Homo sapiens: one gene and its partners. The gene in region 1 interacts genetically with each later gene. Each region holds a gene or a part of one and is shown in the gene's direction. Other genes may lie near its edges.

Evidence for each region. Genes that interact genetically often act in the same process or in processes that back each other up.
Region 2: changes in PPP4R4 (region 1) and FASN together harm fitness less than expected from each alone (positive genetic interaction), as found in Homo sapiens cells (one large-scale study listed by BioGRID).
Region 3: changes in PPP4R4 (region 1) and HAPSTR1 together harm fitness less than expected from each alone (positive genetic interaction), as found in Homo sapiens cells (one large-scale study listed by BioGRID).

The regions. Positions count from the first base shown.
Region 1 is NC_000014.9:94,180,822-94,184,321, forward strand, and holds part of PPP4R4 (serine/threonine-protein phosphatase 4 regulatory subunit 4), read left to right. Parts: intron 1-3,500. UniProt on the Homo sapiens protein: Putative regulatory subunit of serine/threonine-protein phosphatase 4.
Region 2 is NC_000017.11:82,084,457-82,088,236, reverse strand, and holds part of FASN (fatty acid synthase), read left to right. Parts: coding exon 1-121; intron 122-202; coding exon 203-283; intron 284-375; coding exon 376-552; intron 553-732; coding exon 733-912; intron 913-983; coding exon 984-1,187; intron 1,188-1,678; coding exon 1,679-1,983; intron 1,984-2,365; coding exon 2,366-2,755; intron 2,756-2,834; coding exon 2,835-2,999; intron 3,000-3,080; coding exon 3,081-3,202; intron 3,203-3,283; coding exon 3,284-3,438; intron 3,439-3,520; coding exon 3,521-3,724; intron 3,725-3,780. UniProt on the Homo sapiens protein: Fatty acid synthetase is a multifunctional enzyme that catalyzes the de novo biosynthesis of long-chain saturated fatty acids starting from acetyl-CoA and malonyl-CoA in the presence of NADPH.
Region 3 is NC_000016.10:9,105,144-9,108,923, forward strand, and holds part of HAPSTR1 (HUWE1-associated protein modifying stress responses 1), read left to right. Parts: exon of another isoform or gene 1-1,621; intron 1,622-3,227; coding exon of another isoform or gene 3,228-3,361; exon of another isoform or gene 3,362-3,780. UniProt on the Homo sapiens protein: Acts as a central player within a network of stress response pathways promoting cellular adaptability. The E3 ligase HUWE1 assists HAPSTR1 in controlling stress signaling and in turn, HUWE1 feeds back to promote the degradation of HAPSTR1.

The DNA.
Region 1 (3,500 bases):
TTTTTAACTTTCTCTTCCTATTTTTTAAAGAGTAAGTGCTCCCCCTAGTGATATGAAAGAGTGAGATTTCTGCAGTCAAATCAGTGGAAATAAACAAGTGTTGTACCATGTGAGAACTCTGGCGTACTTCTTCTTGGGTTCAAGACTAGGATAGGGTAGCAATGAGACAGTAAGGAAGAACTCCAGTGATTAAAGCTTTGCTACTCACCTAGCTTTTGGTTGTTTTTCTTTTAAAATACCTATCTTATTTGCTATCCCAAAGTGGAAAGTTGTGTGAAAAACTCCTTTGAATGCCCTCCTTTTTATGACGTGTGTCCCCACATTTACTTTCATTATTGTCTTGATTTCTGTTTTTGATGCTTGCTTCCTTTCAGTATTGTTTTAGTGAGGCATGGTTTGTGTGTGTGTGTATGTGTGTGTGTGAGAGAGAGAAAGAGAGAGGAAGAGAGAGAGATCACATTTGTGTTGTGCATGCATGTGTATATGTGTATATAGGTGGTCTTGAGTGACCAGTATTGCTTGCTCAGTTTTCTTTAGTGATACACAGGAGAGGACTTTTGCATTCTTCACAATTAAGATAGATAGTTGGTTAGTTAATACAAACAATTGGCTAGAATCATAAAATCACAAATGTTACATATTTTCAACATCAAATTTTAATGTAAACTATAAATATATTTTCATTTGCCAATCTTTTGATGTGAAGTCATGATCTTTTCTTTGAGTATGGGTCTGCTGATTAAAGTTTGAAATTCTCCTTCTTTCATAAATCACCCCATAATGCATTTACAATATCAAGTTCAGTTTTCTTTAAAGTTGAACAAGAATTTAAATTTGCTTATGAAGCAGTCTGAAAGCATGGTTCTAGGTTTTTATGATTTTCTACTTGTGTTTTAAAAGTTTTGTTCTTCCATACTTTAGTAGCAATTTTCTTTGACAACTTATGTTTATTGAATTTAGTTTTTCTAAAACTTTTAACTTAATTTGATAGAAACAAATATATGTGTTCATATATTTAGGTAATATTTAATTAAATTATGTAATTGCAACAGCAAGTGAAATTTGAAATAAACTAGTTTGAGAACATACTTAGCTGACTCTTAATTACAACTCAATTAGTGAGAGTGGAATTCTGTGGGCTTTCCAGAGAGTAGCCTATTAGCGACGAGCTTTCAGCTTGCAGTTGCAAGGGAGTAGAGAGTATTGCTTAATCAGGTCTTTTAACATCTTGTCACATCTCAAACACCTTTGTTTGAGAGAGATACATACCATCTCCTTTCCAAGTGTGCTCTGTGATGATCTTGCTTCATTCTTGATATTCCTCTCCTGTCTCTCTGTTGTATTTGTTCCCATGGTCTGGTTTGTTCTTTGTTTGCCTTTATAGATTTAAAAAAGTAATGAATTTGGAATATCAGTTAAAGAAGTACTTTCATAAGCTTATATTTTATTTTTTAACGCGAACTTTGAATGTATGCAGAAATGTGCACAAATCATAATACAGCTTGTTGAATTTTCACAAGTGAACACACCCATGTACCCAGTATCCAGATTAAAGCATAGAACATTATCATGTTAGCTTAGTAGCTTCCTTTGTATTCCTGTCCCAGTGCCCTGTACTTCCTGCAAAGGGTAGCTACTCTACTGACTTCTAACACTATACATTGATTTACCTGATTTTGCACTTTATATAGTAGGAAGCACTCTGTGTACCTTTTGTGTATAGCTGCTTTTGCTCAATATTTTAAAAAAGAGATTTATCCATATTGTTGCATGGAGCAACAGATTGTTCATTCTCATTGCTGTATACTATTCCATTATGTGAATATACCACAATTTATTCATTCCACTGCTGATGGACATTTGGCTTAGTTTTCAGTTTGGGGCTTTTATGAATAATGCTGTTATAATCATTCATGTACAAGTCTCTTGGTGAATACATGTGTGCATTTCTTTTAGGTATCATTATAGAAGCCGAATTGTTGGTCATAGCATATGCCTATGTCCAGCTTAAAAGATATTGCTAAACAGTTTTCCAGTGTGCTTTGACCAGTTTGTACTTCTGCCAGCAGTGTCTGAGTGGTCCCAGCCTATATATTTTTAGGAAACAAAAGTGACAAACTTCTAGTACATAATTTCTAGCATATCAATAATGAACTTCCTAGTTAATAGCCTTTAGATGTTTCGTTTCTCTGTGCATGACTTACACCATCTAACTTTTTTTCTTTCCCTACAAGAAGGGGAGTTCTATAAGGTTTTACTTGGCTACACTGTTGGTTAGAAGACTCTCAGTTATTAGATTGTCTCTTAGGAGATGAGGCATGTTGTGTGATTAGTTTTTCTTAGAAAAAGAGAAACAAAGTGGATATTGGAGTCTACCTGCTTATGGGAGTGCTATTCTCAGTCCCTGTGCTTTTAATGATTCTAAGAGGTCCTCATTAAAAAAATTGCCCACGTTGTCATCCTCTGTGAAGATGATGTACAAATGACTTGCCTTTCTACATGGAAATTGCAGGCATCTTCATTTGTATTTTTTAGGACAGAGGGATCACTGTTTAATATATTAAGAGCAGTATATAATGGATTCCAGCTGTATACCTTCCATTATTGCTAAGGCCAAATTACTGAAGTCTTTGGCAAACCTTGAATTCCCTGTTTTGGAAAAGTACGAGGTCTGTGAATATAAAGGGTTTGGAGATTGTTTCCCATCTCTGTTTCCTTGTCTTTTGTTATGAGAACAACCATGGGAGGCATCTGTGTCTTTTTTCCTACTTACCAAACACTCAGAAAGGTTTCTTTGTGACATCTGTAGAAAGCAGAATGCTCTCATGGGATCTATAGGAAAAGCTTGAAAATAAAAAGTGAAATATTTTCATCAATGTAAAAGTGACCCATATAATGTCATTGAAAAGACCTCTGAAAGCGTAATAACATAATGTGATGTGAGAGAATTGAGCAAAGTTTTCATCTTGTAAGCATAGTGTTTTATTACTTTAAAAAAGCCTATACAATTCTGTAGTACAAAATAATTTCATAATATAGAATAATAAAATACATTAAAATTAATCTATAAAATAAGATAATATATAAAGCAATATAAAATAAATGAGTATACATATTTGAATAATGTGTCAAGTTATGTAACTATCAATGTAATCATATTATAACATATGTATATCATAAATGTATATGCATGTGTGTGTATATGTTTATTTTCATGAGCAATTAATTCATCCCAACGCTCCCTCTTGAGAAGTAGCTAAGTGAGACACAGGGACATAGGAAGATTGAGTTCTATCATAAATTATAACTAATTAGTTCCCAGTAAAAAGTGGGAGTTGTACTGCTTGGTTCCCAGTCTTGTAATGTTGAATTGTGCAGTAGTTTCTTAGTATTGACATTAAGAATTAGAGGGCTCACCATACCAAGTGGTAAAATTCATAGCTTTCTTTTTTTTTTGAGACACGGTCTTGCTCTGTTCCCAGGCTGGAGTGCAGTGGTGC
Region 2 (3,780 bases), on another chromosome or scaffold:
ACTGGCTACCTGAGCATAGTGTGGAAGACGCTGGCCCGCGCCCTGGGCCTGGGCGTCGAGCAGCTGCCTGTGGTGTTTGAGGATGTGGTGCTGCACCAGGCCACCATCCTGCCCAAGACTGGTGAGGGGTACCCCAGGACCAAGGCGGGGGTAGCTGGGGGGCGGGTGCTGCCCTCTGATCTCCAACTCTCCCGCTCTGCAGGGACAGTGTCCCTGGAGGTACGGCTCCTGGAGGCCTCCCGTGCCTTCGAGGTGTCAGAGAACGGCAACCTGGTAGTGAGTGGTAAGCAGGGCCGGTGGCACGGGAGCTGCGGAGGCTGTGCCCGCTGGCCATGCCGCCCGTCCTCAGGCCCTTCCGCACCTCCCTTTCCACAGGGAAGGTGTACCAGTGGGATGACCCTGACCCCAGGCTCTTCGACCACCCGGAAAGCCCCACCCCCAACCCCACGGAGCCCCTCTTCCTGGCCCAGGCTGAAGTTTACAAGGAGCTGCGTCTGCGTGGCTACGACTACGGCCCTCATTTCCAGGGCATCCTGGAGGCCAGCCTGGAAGGTGGGTACTGACTACACTGCTGCCCAAGCCACCGGGGAGGGCGGTCGTCATTGTGGGGACCACAGAGGGCACCCACAGCTAGGCATGCAGCTTGGGAGGGAGCAGAGGGGCCCGGTGGGCTCTGGGAGGTGGCCCCAGGGACCTGGGAGTTCCACAGCACCAACCAGGCCCTGTGTGCAGGTGACTCGGGGAGGCTGCTGTGGAAGGATAACTGGGTGAGCTTCATGGACACCATGCTGCAGATGTCCATCCTGGGCTCGGCCAAGCACGGCCTGTACCTGCCCACCCGTGTCACCGCCATCCACATCGACCCTGCCACCCACAGGCAGAAGCTGTACACACTGCAGGACAAGGCCCAAGGTAGCCCCGCCCCAGCCCCAGCCCAGTGCCCCCACCCAAGTATGCCGCACTCACCCAGCCTGTCCCCACAGTGGCTGACGTGGTGGTGAGCAGGTGGCTGAGGGTCACAGTGGCCGGAGGCGTCCACATCTCCGGGCTCCACACTGAGTCGGCCCCGCGGCGGCAGCAGGAGCAGCAGGTGCCCATCCTGGAGAAGTTTTGCTTCACTCCCCACACGGAGGAGGGGTGCCTGTCTGAGCGCGCTGCCCTGCAGGAGGAGCTGCAACTGTGCAAGGGTGAGGTCCCAGCCCTGCTGGCTTCGGACACCTCTGGCGATGAGGAGCGATCGCCTCCCCTCACGTTGACCCCAGACTTGCTTCTCCACGGGGCCCCCTTTGGGGTCAGCAACCCTAGCCCAACCCTCCGGCCGGAGCTCACGATGGCGGCCTCCCTCCCTCCCCCAGCCCCCAGCCTTCCTCGTCCCTGGTCACTGTTCCTCAGTCTTGAAAGGGTACTTGGGGGCAAAGATGACAGATTCAGCCTAAGGTCACACCTTGGCTAGGCACAGAGTAGCCCCTGCAGCTGAATGCGGCCCCTCACTGCGTCCACAGTGGGCAGGAGTCAGCCTCCCAGTGGTGGGCAGCCCCTTCCTCAACCCTCAGCTATTTCTCATCCTGTGGGCAGAGCGGGGTGGTGGCCCCAGAAGGACAGAGTGGGTCTGAGAGCCCATGCCAGGCAGATGCCCTGGGGCTTTGGGAACACCAGGCCTGCCTCCCTCCCTCCCCAGGGCTGGTGCAGGCACTGCAGACCAAGGTGACCCAGCAGGGGCTGAAGATGGTGGTGCCCGGACTGGATGGGGCCCAGATCCCCCGGGACCCCTCACAGCAGGAACTGCCCCGGCTGTTGTCGGCTGCCTGCAGGCTTCAGCTCAACGGGAACCTGCAGCTGGAGCTGGCGCAGGTGCTGGCCCAGGAGAGGCCCAAGCTGCCAGAGGACCCTCTGCTCAGCGGCCTCCTGGACTCCCCGGCACTCAAGGCCTGCCTGGACACTGCCGTGGAGAACATGCCCAGCCTGAAGATGAAGGTGGTGGAGGTGGGTGCCTCCTGGGCAGCCAGGCCTCTGCCCCGGACATGGTAGGACCCACCCTGACATCAGTTGCAGGAGACAGCACAGACACGGGGCGGGCCCTGGGCGGTGGGTGGGGCCGGCCAGTTCCCTGTGTGGTTCTGTGCACGTGTCCTGTGCGGTCCACACAGCCACCGTGGAGGGTCCGCCCGTGGGCTCCAAGAGGTGCAGCCTAGGCAGGACCCCAGGGACAAGACCAGTGGCATCCATGCGTGCCCATGGCTGGCACCGTCATCAGGTTGACGGGGAAGCCTTTCTGCCAGACTGAGGCCTCATGGACATTTTGCCCAGCCCCAGGTCAGGGGCACCTGCCTGGTGTGGGGCTGATTCCAGAATTCACCCCCTACAGGTGCTGGCTGGCCACGGTCACCTGTATTCCCGCATCCCAGGCCTGCTCAGCCCCCATCCCCTGCTGCAGCTGAGCTACACGGCCACCGACCGCCACCCCCAGGCCCTGGAGGCTGCCCAGGCCGAGCTGCAGCAGCACGACGTTGCCCAGGGCCAGTGGGATCCCGCAGACCCTGCCCCCAGCGCCCTGGGCAGCGCCGACCTCCTGGTGTGCAACTGTGCTGTGGCTGCCCTCGGGGACCCGGCCTCAGCTCTCAGCAACATGGTGGCTGCCCTGAGAGAAGGGGGCTTTCTGCTCCTGCACACACTGCTCCGGGGGCACCCCCTCGGGGACATCGTGGCCTTCCTCACCTCCACTGAGCCGCAGTATGGCCAGGGCATCCTGAGCCAGGTGCGGCCGCCGGGCAGGGGGACAGGGTGGGGGCCGGGTGAGGGCCAGGCGGGCAGGGTGCTGACCACCGCCCCCACAGGACGCGTGGGAGAGCCTCTTCTCCAGGGTGTCGCTGCGCCTGGTGGGCCTGAAGAAGTCCTTCTACGGCTCCACGCTCTTCCTGTGCCGCCGGCCCACCCCGCAGGACAGCCCCATCTTCCTGCCGGTGGACGATACCAGCTTCCGCTGGGTGGAGTCTCTGAAGGTCAGGCCCTGCCCCACCTCCAGGCCCCACCCCACCTCCCAACTTGCCGAGTGTGGCCTGACCCTCCCCGACCCGCTGTAGGGCATCCTGGCTGACGAAGACTCTTCCCGGCCTGTGTGGCTGAAGGCCATCAACTGTGCCACCTCGGGCGTGGTGGGCTTGGTGAACTGTCTCCGCCGAGAGCCCGGCGGGAACCGCCTCCGGTAGGAGCACGGCCCCTCACCACTTCCCCTTCCCCACCAGCCTCCCCATCCCCAGCCTGAGCTCCCCGCCTCTGCCCCCAGGTGTGTGCTGCTCTCCAACCTCAGCAGCACCTCCCACGTCCCGGAGGTGGACCCGGGCTCCGCAGAACTGCAGAAGGTGTTGCAGGGAGACCTGGTGATGAACGTCTACCGCGACGGGGCCTGGGGGGCTTTCCGCCACTTCCTGCTGGAGGAGGGTGAGCCCCCGACACTGCCCTGCCCCTCCCGGGAGACTGCACCCGAAGGCCCCGCAGCAGCCCCACCTCCCTGTTTCCCTAGACAAGCCTGAGGAGCCGACGGCACATGCCTTTGTGAGCACCCTCACCCGGGGGGACCTGTCCTCCATCCGCTGGGTCTGCTCCTCGCTGCGCCATGCCCAGCCCACCTGCCCTGGCGCCCAGCTCTGCACGGTCTACTACGCCTCCCTCAACTTCCGCGACATCATGCTGGCCACTGGCAAGCTGTCCCCTGATGCCATCCCAGGTATGGGTGGCATGGGGCCGTGGGAGTGGACTGGGCCGGGGAGCAGAGACCCCAGC
Region 3 (3,780 bases), on another chromosome or scaffold:
TTATTGTTTTCCTGAACTTTGGGAGTTTTAAGCAATGATACAGTTGAAGGGACTGTTTATAATTTTCACATGTTTAAGTTGTGAGGCTTTAAAACTTAAATATAAGGCTTTGTCTAGGAAGAAAATGATCTTTACCTTCAATAAATTTATAATGTAGCACTAATCCAGTATAGATTGGAGACTGAATGCATTCTTACTCTTAGGGTTCATACCTCTAATTCATGTGGTTAAGACAGTGTTGTGGTGAAGTAATAGGGCCCCTTGAAAGAATCTACAGAAACATAAATTATACTGAGTTGTGCTGTACTGGTTTGTGAGAACATCAGTGTATTAAGGAGAATGGTAGTTTAATTTGAATATTTAAAGAAAGTAATTTGAATGGTTCTAGTACTAGGGCCATTATTAACTAGTAACATAGATTAGTGACTTCAACTGGGTGTCCTTATTATCTGATTTGTCTGAAGTGAAAACTGTTAAGGTGCTCTTTTAAAATGTATTTGGAAACACCATAGTTAGGGTAAATACAATGTCACAATTCACTCTTGCATATTATTTGCTTAGCCAAATTTATGAATTCTAAGTTAGGCCAAATTGAAGGTTTTGGAGTTTTACATTGTGGGTGAGTCTAAATTCATGCGTTTGGCAAGCACAAGGACATGGGAAAAGAATCTGGTATTTTGAGGCAGGCTTGAGTTTATAATGAAAGCAAACTCAGTTCCTCTTCATGTCCTATGTATTTAAGAGAGGACAGTTTTCCCTCAGTTTTTTTCCCCTTCCTTACCCCTACCCCCATCAAATACAGCCCAACCAAATAACTGTGTTCTTAATTTAAAGGAAAATGGCAGACTTGACACCTGCTGAATATTTCGTGTAGACAGAGTATGACAATGAATGAGATCCCCAGTCATTGCCCTTGTAAGCCTGGGAACCCAGTTTAGTGGGAGAGACTAATGTAAACAGCTTTAATCAAAAGTATATCAATTGGCCGGGTGCTGTGGCTCACACCTATAATGCCGGCACTTTGGGAGGCCAAGGTGGGTGGATCACTTGAGGTCAGGAGTTTGAGACCACCCTGGCCAACATGGTGAAACCCTCTCCCTATTTAAAGAAAAAAAAGTAAGGCATATCAATTTATGGTTATCAAATAGGTTTTTTTTTTTTTTTTTGAGACTGAGTGTCGCTCTATAGCCCAGGCTGGAGTGTAGTGCTCACTGCGACTTCCGCCTCCTGGGTTCAAATGATTCTCGTGCCTCAGTCTCCCGAGTAGCTGGGATTGTAGGCGCCTGCCACCACGCCCAGCTAATTTTTGTATTTGTAGTAGAGATGGGGTTTCATCATGTTGGCGAAGCTGGTCTTGAACACCTGACCTCAAGTGATCTGCCTTAGCCTCACTGCTTGCCCCTAAGTGGTGGGATTGCAGGTGTGAGCCACTGTGCTGGCCTCAAATAGTTTTTATCAAAGCTACTTCAATTAGTGGTTAGCAAGGCTTAAAGACTAATTCAGTGCTTTATTTTGACACTTGTTCGCAACATGTTGCTTTTTTTCCTGTGTCCTATGGGACCTAGTCATCTGTATGTTAGATTCACAGAGGAATTAAAGAGATAAACATGCATGTGCTAAATTGATTTCTGTCTTGCTTTGTTATCCTATAATAATGTTATAAAATAACATTATTATAAATTTCCCAAGAGTTGAATTAATACCAACAACTGGTAACTCGTTTTTATGTAAACAGCATACTTGAGACCAGAAATCTTCTGGATCACTTTGTGGATCTCTGCCTGCCATTCTCATTGGTCCTCTGTTCATCCCTTTTCTAGAGCTTCTCCTTACCTTGGCTTCTCTTCTGCCACATTGGCCTGCCTGACCTGTCCTCAGGCCCTGTCACTGCCCTAGATTACGTTTCCCATGTCTTCACTTCCAAATCTGGACCTCTCGTTTAGACCTTCTCTCCTGACTGCCAGATGGCATGTCCCACTGTCCTCCGGTGTACATCTCCAAATTGTCCCACAGGCATTTATCTCAGATGAAGTTTCAGGTTGGACTCATTCTTCTGCCCCAACAGCAGAATGACTCATTGAGCCATTGAGCCATTCAGCACATTCTCTATATGGCAGATTCGGTGCTGTCTCTGGAAATACATAAACATAGAGCGATTCCTTTTTCTGTTGAGGCAAAATATGGATTTGGTTAATTTCTATTCACGTCATGAATGTGGTATGTGGAAGGTCTTCTGAGAGCAGAAAGGGATGTTTCACAGCACAGCCCGGCTGTGTGGTGCTCAGGGCAGGCCCTCTGGAGGAGGTGAGCCTGGGCTCTTGGCCTAATGTTTCAGCTCTCACTTTCCAGTCCTGAGCTGTTGTTGCCAGTCCATCTTTCATGAGACCATTGGAGTGATCTTTCTGGTCTTGTCACTTCATGGTTTAAAGTTTCCCTGGGCCTACACAGTGAAGTCCAAATTCAGCATGGTATTACAAGACCCTTATGATCCAGTCTTAACCATTGGTTAGGTATCCTACCCATACTGTTTATCTCTTGAATACCTCTATGCTCTTTGACAAGTCCAGCCCCTACGTGTTCATACCTCACTTCTGTGACACAGCCTTGCTTCAGGGCTCCCAATCTCTGTAGCCTCCCTGAACTGTGCATTTGCTCTGCTGCTTGATTTGTTTCTGTGACTGTTCCATTCTCCTCGGGACACATAGCAGGGACCTTGTCTTGGTCCTTTTTTTTTTGGCTTTAACAGAACATAGCAAAGAACCTGACATAGGTGTAGTCTGAGTTTACCACTGGGGTTATCACAGAGGTCTGCTAAGTGAATACAACACAGTGGGGACCCAGAACCTCTAGAAAGGGTTGAGGATTACAATCCCCAGATAGCTACAATCAGGGAATAATGTAACCTGTTTGCCTAGGGTGCTACATGGTAATCTTGAATTAGAACAACTGAGACTTCCATGGGACCTTAGGGTGATAACCATTAAACCTACTCTTTCAGTGTTTACTTTGTAAAAGCATCACACTAAGGAGGTTGTCATTTAATCCTCACACCTACCCTGGGTTATTAACACTGTTGATGAAGAAAGCCTTACTTGGCTAAGATATGGAGCAGGTTAGTAAGTGGTAGAATAGATACTCCAGTCCTGTCTCCAAAATGCAAATTTTTTTTTAATTAAAAAAATTTCTAATTTTCAATATATTTATTTTTGATTTTTTATTTTCTGTAGAGTTGGAGTTTCGCCATGTTGTCCAGGCTGGTCTCGAACTCATGGGTGCAAGCCATACCCCAACCTCGACCTTCCGAAGTGTTGGGAATACTGGCATGAGCCATGATGCCTGGCCTCAAAATGCATACCCTTAACCACTATGCTCTCACATTTTTAGATGTGGGATTTCTGTCTACGACGTCGCCCCCACTAAGACCTAGGGCTTAGGTGTCGAGGTGGGAAAGATCTTGAGGCTTTTCTTCTCAAAATTAATCAGAAACGATGTGAATTTTATATCTCTTTCTGAGGTTTTCCCCATAAGCTAATCGGGATTAGTAGACTTAAAGGTGAATGACCAACTGTATCCCTGGTTCACTGGTTAGGAAGAGTACATAGTCTTTGTGTATAGGCTATTTTCCTCGGTAACCTTGGGCAACATGCTTGACTTCTCCAAGCCAGTCTCCTTTGTGAAAGGTGATATACTTACAAGACATTATATTAAATGAGAACCCAGGCAGGTTACCTACCCTACCATGACACTGGAAGTATTCTTTGCCTTAAGAAAAGGAGAATT